Homo sapiens: one gene and its partner. The protein of the gene in region 2 purifies or fractionates together with the protein of the main gene of each other region. This does not show direct contact. Each region holds a gene or a part of one and is shown on either strand. Other genes may lie near its edges.

Region 1 (4,026 bases), on a different chromosome or scaffold from region 2:
GTGGGGAGAGGATGGCCGCGCTGGGCCCAAGGAGGGGTGACGGCCAGGAGTGGTGAGAGCCGGGCTGATGTACTTGGCCTCACTGCCCCCAGGGAAGTCATCAGCTCCAAGGAGAAGAGCAAATACAAGTTCCCTCCTGCTGCTTTGCCCCAGGAATTCAGCGCCTTCTTCCAAGGTCAGGCCCCGCCCCTGCCCCCACTTGGCTCCACCCCCAAACCTAGGCCCCTTCCTGTCGTTCCTTGATCCTGCCATACACAGGAACCACTTGGTGGTGGCTGCATGCAGGACTGGGAGAACCAAAGACCAAGCAAGAGTTTAGGGACAGAGACAAGAGAAGACATCTTGGGCTGGAGCGAGGGCCTCCCATCAGGTGGAGGGGTGGGGTCAACCTGCCTACCCAGATTTCTCATCCTCTTTCCCCGCCATCTCCTGGATCCTTCTAGCCACTTGTACCCTACTGTGATCTTAAAACTCTCTGGTCCAATCCCTTTGTCCCCATAGCCTCCACGCATCTCCACCCATCCCGGAGACACAGGAGGTATCTCCACCTCCTGTTCCCTGGCTGCTGGAGGATCTGGTGCCCAGGACAGCTGTGGCTGCCTGTTCACAGGTGGTCCTGTGAACCTGTTCTCCCTGGTGACCCTCCACCCCTGGGTCCCCTCTCTCCTCTCATTGGAGGGAGACTGGCCAGGACTTTAGATAGGCTCAGGGTGGGATATGGCCTGGACAGAGGTGGGCAGGGCTGTGAAAAGGTGGTGACCTATTGGGATATTAAATGTCTCAGTGATGCCCCCATGGAGCTGTGGGCCTGGATCTAGAGTTGGGGCAGCAACTCCAGGAGGGGAGGCACCCCTAGGGAGCTCCTCGACTTTATTTTCCCATAGCCTGGGTGCTGTTATTAAAACAAACTGGATTTCATTTCTCCTCCCATCATATCCCTTGATGTCAACCTGACGTCCTCAAGATGAAATCCTACTCCTCCCACAGCCTTTCTCTCCACTTGCCCTGCTGCTCAGCCTGGCTTCTGTCCTCTCATTCCCAGACTGCTACCACTGACCCCACCTCAGGGTCTTAGCCCATGCTGTGCCTTCTCCCCTCCAACTGCATTCTCAGGTCTCCCCTCAAAAGCCCCATCCCCAAGGAGGCCTCCCACCCATCCAGCCGGAATCAAGCCCCAGCCCTACTCTTCCTCCTCTGCCAGGCATGTGACCCGGGGCTAGTCCCTTCTGCCCTCTGAGTTTCAGTCCCTGGCCTGGCATCCTGTCCAGTTTTGCTGGCGCAGGGCCAGGTGGGCCTCCTACGTATTAGGTTGTGAAAGCCCCTAGAAGTCCCAGGCAAAGGCATGGGCGTGGGGGGAGGTGGCATCAGTATAGTAGATACAGCAGAGTCCCCAGAGCACGGCATGGGAAGCACCAACCGTCACAGGGCAGAGGCAGCAAGAGATTTGCATCTGAGAAACTAAGCCCTGGTCATCATGGGGAAGTGGAAGGGTATGTGCTCATGCTGGGGCCCTCACTTTGGGGCTTAAGGATCTGGGAAGCTGGCTAGACTCTCAGGGCTGGTCTTTGTCACCCTTAAGTCCCCCAAAGAAGGGTTGTCCCTTTCAGGCCCTCTACTATACAGCCATAACTCCTTAGATGCCCCCCAGGGCAGAGCCAGCTCTTATCCCTCACACTGGATCTTTTACTTGGCCCAGCTCCCTCTCCCCTCCACCCCAGGGCACTCACCTCTTGTGCAGCCCCCTGGGTCCATAGCCCTGCAACCTTGGTGACATTACCCTGCCCACACCCCCCTACCCAGAGAGCCTACAGAATGCAGACCACTTGCCTCCCATACTGCTGTTACGTCTCATCCACCTCTTCTGCGCCGTCCTCGCTGGAGGAAAGGTAGGCTGGGAGGTGAGCCTGTGGACTAGAGAGCAGCTCTTTCAGTATCTCTCTGCTGGGTGAGCCCCTTGCCCACTGCCCATCTCTGTCCACACCTGCAGGAGAACGGGCAGATGGCTGTAAGTGATGGCTCTGTGAAGGGCCTGCTGAGTGTGGTGCGGGGCTGGAGCCGTGGGCCAGCCCCGGACCCGTGCCTAGTGCCACTGGCTCTAGAGGCACTGGTAGGTGCAGTCCATGTCTTGCATGCCAGCCGCGCACCTCCTCGTGGCCCAGAGCTTCGTGCCCTGCTTGAGAGCTACTTCCATGTCCTTAATGCTGACTGGCCAGCTGGTCTGAGCTCAGGCCCCGAAGAGGCCCTTGTCACCCTCCGGGTCAGCATGCTCGGTGGGTATGGGCTCCCAGGCTCTTGGGGAAGGGGCACCATGAGGGAAAAGCCTAAGTGATGATGGAAGGTCTGGATAGGGCAGCATAGGAAGGAAGGCTTAAGGCTGCCTAGAGGGGTCTGGGCAGGGCCTGACCCTTGACCCTTCCACAGACGCCATCCCCATGATGCTGGCATGTGAAGACCGGCCAGTGCTGCAAGCCACCTTCCTCAGCAACAATTGCTTTGAACACCTCACTCGGCTCATTCAGAACAGCAAGGTGGGTAGGGCCCAGCCTGGGGGTGAGGGTCTGGAAGCCAGAGGCTAGGGGAGCCACGCATAGGTGCCAGGCTGCTGCTGAGCAAACATGGGCTGGACAGAGTCAGTGTTTTGCAGCTGGTGGGATGGCTTGCAGTTCAGTGGGAGGGTGTGGGGCATGGACAAGGGCCCATCCCTTGGGGCCTCTATAGGACTGGGCTTGAGGCTTAGGACATCTTTGTGCCCCATGGAAGCGGGGCTTGTTATGGAAGGAAGGGAGCTGCTCTGGTGCCTTGTTTCCCTTTCCGTGGCCCCAAGTACAGGGGCTAGAGGAGGGCACCACTGCTTTCAGATGCAGTGCCTGCTCCCACCCGCTCATCCCCCCGACTGCCCATCTGAGCAGGGCACAGGGGGCTCAGCACCCTACTCTTCCCTAGTGCCGGGCAGGGCACCTGGCAGCTGCCCCTGGTCCTGCTCTAACCCCACCCTCTCCCATCTTCCTCCTCTCTTCTTTGCCTCCTCCACCCTGTGCCTCCCCACTTCCCCACAGCTGTACCTGCAGTCCCGGGCGCCCCCCGAGGGGGACAGTGACCTGGCTACCCGGTTACTGACTGAGCCCGATGTCCAAAAGGTACCATCCTGGGGCTGACCAGCTCAGACACCCCCTGGGACTCCCTCTTTGAGCTTTTCCTGCACTATAGCTGGGGAAATGAGCAGATGTGTGTAAGGCCTGGTGTGGTCTAGAAATGGGTGTGGGTCCTCCATGCTGTCTCGCCTGCCTTCCAAGTCCCCATCCTAGGGAACAGGACAGAAGGTGGTCTATCCCCTGCCTGGTGTTTGATTGGGTGTTGGGGGTCTGGCTGTGCCAAGCTGGATGGAACCTTCGAAACTCAGCCACCTACCTCATTTCTCAGAAGGGGAGACAGAAGCCCAGACACTCAAGGATTTGGCTATAGTCACAGAGAAAGGGGTCTCCCTCATGGTGCCATTTCTTTCTGTAGATTCTTGCACCCACCCTCAGCGGGTCACTGGGTGTCCCCCAGCCCCTGATGATGTGATCCCTGATTCACCTTGCATGTGGGCTGTAGGAGGCTGCAGGGTGTCAGCTGGCAGCTTCACAGCGGGCACCCTTTCTGGGGGCTCAACCTGTGGGCCCCAACCTCCATAGCCCCTACCCTGGCTCTGTCTTCATGAGGTAACCCTATGTGTTCACCGCATGTGGTCATTTTCTTAGAGCTTACACGTCTATTCATCTGCAAAGCAGGCAGGGCAAAGTGACTCCCCTCTGTTTTTACAGATGAGGACACTGAGGCCTGGAGGGGGAGGACTGATGCCTTAGGTCACTTGGGGAGTCAGGCAAAGCTGGGACCAAAGGCCCCATGGAGCCGAATATGACCTAGTCCCTGCTGAGAAACTCTCCAAGCCCTCCCAACCCCTGACCCCCTCAGGGTGGGGCAGGAGAGGCAGCAGCATGCCTCTGGCTGTCAGGTTCAGCCAGGCTGAGCCTCAGTGCCCCCACC
Region 2 (3,500 bases):
TTTTCTTTCTGGAAAAGTTTATCATAAAATTTAGTCTTTAGGAAGAGGAGCAACTGGCATGTTTTGATGACTCTGGCAAAGCAGCAGTTTATTATCACTCAGCCAGCACCCAGTGAATGATGATAGTGCAGAATGGAGTTGTCAGTGGGCCCAGCTTAAGCAAATAACATCTGTGGAGCTTCTCCTGAAGTCTTGTGGTTGTCTAGGTCAGAAACTTTCGAAGAGTTCCTGTGGTCTGGACTCTTTCTGCTTGACTTGTTTATGTTCCCTGCCAATCCCCATCCGTATTTGAATTTGGGACCTCTGACCTAGGACTCTGTTGGTGTGCATATTTGGGAATACACTGCTGTCAACCCATAGCCTTTGGTGTGGGCATTTGTGACAGTTAGAAAATGTGAACAGTTTTAAATGAGGTACATGATTCTTGATTGACTTATCTAATGGATACACTGAAGTATTTGTCATAAAAAAAAATCTATTGCAAATATCATCAGTATTTTTACTTTGAAAACCATTTTGAAATAATGCATCAGATTTGATAGTATCAGGAGTAGTTTGCATTTCCTAGACATACACTGATTGGACACACAATTCTTGTTTACTTAGTATTGTATATTGATTGGCATTGGATACCATGCTAAAAATTTAAATTATGTAGATATTGAGGCATTGGACAGACTAAAGGCCCAAATAAGCTGAAAAACAGTGAATTAACTTACAAATAATTGTGGACATGTTAAGTAATTTGGCTTATAATAGACAATCAAATTGAACTTTCCACCTTGGTTTAGTTTACTTCTAAAAATGAAACGATGGGTTGGGATACACTGTTTTTAAATCTTCTAGTTTCCCAGCTTTATTGACTTGTAATCATAGGATTATTGCTTTTAAAAATACTTTGTAATAATTGTTAACTTTTTTGCCCATGAATTGTCTGTATTGAGAATGAGACATTTTGGTTTGTACATTCCCTAGGTCCAGATTCGGCCTTGGAATCTCAGTGACAGTGACTTTGTGATGGATGGTTCACAGCCACTTGACCCACGAAAAACTATATTTGTTGGTGGTGTTCCTCGACCATTACGAGCTGGTATGATTAAACAAACGACAAACTCTCTACCCTATAGCGCAAGAAATATGAAGATCTTCAGGATAAATTTTTCCTAAGAATTGGAGTTAATATCCAAGAGTGAGAGTTCTAGAATCAAAATATCTGGGTTTGAATTCATGTGTTCTAATAGTTAAGTGACCTTGGACAAATTCCATGACTTTTCTAATTCCCAGTTTCCCCATCTGTCAAGTAGGGATGAAAAGCGTTTCATCCCTAGGATGAAATAACACCAGAAAAAGTATTTCCTAGTGTTATTTTGAGGGTTGAATTAGACGACCAGTGCAAAGTACTTAGTCTAGTGTTGCATAATGCTAATTATTACGCTCATCATTGTCTGAAAAGAAAAAAAGTCCTTCAAGAATAGATTCTGTATTGAGATTGTCAGTATTTGTTTCCCACATCCTCATTTGCTCAACAGCGACTGACTGAGCTCTGGGATATAATAGACTTCCCAGCAATGCATCAGATTTTTAGGGTAGTACTTACAGAACAAATTAAATTCCTAACTTCAAGTAATTTGAGGTTTAATAATATACATGAGATAAAAAGACATAACATGAACAGGAATGTAGCTGCACGATTTTAACACTTCATAAAGAAGAAAATGCAGTCATTATTTCAAGGTTTTTTTAAATGAAAAATTGGTGAACTGACTGTGGGGAAAGAGTTTTGATGGAAATAAGCCAGGAGGGCCCACAAAGAGTCTACCAGTTAGTTTTCTAGTGTTCAAGTAATTATTACATTAATCAATACATTATTAACTGGTAAATCTATGGCAGCAACATGGCACAGAGCAGGCAAACATGGGAGTACTATCACTTAATGACCTGTGACCTTGGACAGATGGATCACCCTTTCAGCACCTCAATTTCCTCAGGAAATTACTACCTACTTCATATAGTTGTGAGAAGAATAAAGAGAACATACTAGAAAACACCTAGCAACCCCTTGCCCACAATTAAAAGATTAAGGCTTAACACAATGGATGACTGGTTGTAGTAATGTTTCATTTTAATAATTATTATAATGATGTGAGCTCAGAGTACAGATGAATTGCTTTTGATGAAACGGTTGGTGAGCCAGATGAATTTTCCTGATTTTAAATATCCTCCTTGTTCCTTTCTTAATTAGTGGAGCTTGCGATGATAATGGATCGGCTATATGGAGGTGTGTGCTACGCTGGGATTGATACCGACCCTGAGCTAAAATACCCAAAAGGAGCTGGGAGAGTTGCGTTCTCTAATCAACAGAGTTACATAGCTGCTATCAGTGCCCGCTTTGTTCAGCTGCAGCATGGAGAGATAGATAAACGGGTAAGCCTTATACTACATTTTGGAAAATTCTAGAAATGGTCCTCTAAATGTGTGATTACCAATATTAGAACGGGAGCATTTTATGACAATAAAGTGACAGCTGACAATTTTGCCTATAGAGTTAATTATGGTCTATAATACATGAAATAATGTCCTATGAATTTCTTTTATCTTTCAGTTTTTTGAGTAGCCTAATCAGAACACTACAATTTACTTGAGTTAATTTAATCTTCTCTAACTTCCATTCAATCTCAATCCATCCGTCCATTCATTCACTTAGTTTGTAAGTCATTCAATAAATATTTACTGAATCCTTTGTTCTGTGTTATATCAAGTATACAAACAGGAATGCCCTTGAGGTTTCCTGCCCTTTTTTTTGTTTGTTTTTTAATCCTGGGACATAGGGAAGACCTCAGCAAGCCCTATTTCTCAATGAATTGTACTCACAGATTTCTTTTTTTTTTTTTTCTTTTTCCACAGCCGCCACCTCTCACCGATTTATTCCTTAGCTTGGTGTTTCATGTATTCAACAAACGTTTTAGTGCTTAGGGCAAGAAGTTCCTGTCCTCATGAGTTTATTTCCTAGCAGATAGAACTGTATCACTTGCCAGTACTACTCAGAGTGTGGCCTGTGGACTGACCTCCAGTCTGTAAACTTAGTTTGTAGTGAGATAGGAATTTAGACCAGAATGTGTAATCAACCACATTACTGGGCACAATGTTTGGTCCAGCTGGCGATTTTTTTTTCATAGAAAGCCTTTATTGATGAGGGAAGCAATATATTGATTTATATTTTGGGGTCACCTTTTTATTTCATGGCACACTGGCACTTTCATGCATGCTGACTTTGATATCCATCACTCTGAGGCATTGTGCTAAAATAGATTGATTTTATCGTGTTGTTCTCAATTCAAGATGTAAAAATCATCAAGTCAGTAGCAGTTTTTGCTTTTTATGTTTCATGTCATGTACAGTCTACTTCACTGGCAGTAAAAAAATTTAAGATAGTGGTGGTCATCCTACAAACTGTGAATCTATTAAAGAGAAAAGTATCTGTTCTATTCTAAGCATGGGGG

The links.
Region 1: the proteins of CPEB4 (region 2) and NBEAL2 purify together in Homo sapiens (tandem affinity purification; one large-scale study listed by IntAct). This does not show direct contact.

Annotation. Positions count from the first base shown.
Region 1 is NC_000003.12:46,989,419-46,993,444, forward strand, and holds part of NBEAL2 (neurobeachin-like protein 2), read left to right. Parts: intron 1-92; coding exon 93-175; intron 176-250; exon of another isoform or gene 251-1,474; coding exon of another isoform or gene 1,475-1,490; intron 1,491-1,800; coding exon 1,801-1,886; intron 1,887-1,987; coding exon 1,988-2,270; intron 2,271-2,421; coding exon 2,422-2,528; intron 2,529-3,056; coding exon 3,057-3,137; intron 3,138-4,026. UniProt on the Homo sapiens protein: Probably involved in thrombopoiesis. Plays a role in the development or secretion of alpha-granules, that contain several growth factors important for platelet biogenesis.
Region 2 is NC_000005.10:173,950,849-173,954,348, forward strand, and holds part of CPEB4 (cytoplasmic polyadenylation element-binding protein 4), read left to right. Parts: intron 1-975; coding exon 976-1,090; intron 1,091-2,242; coding exon 2,243-2,424; intron 2,425-3,500. UniProt on the Homo sapiens protein: Sequence-specific RNA-binding protein that binds to the cytoplasmic polyadenylation element (CPE), an uridine-rich sequence element (consensus sequence 5'-UUUUUAU-3') within the mRNA 3'-UTR.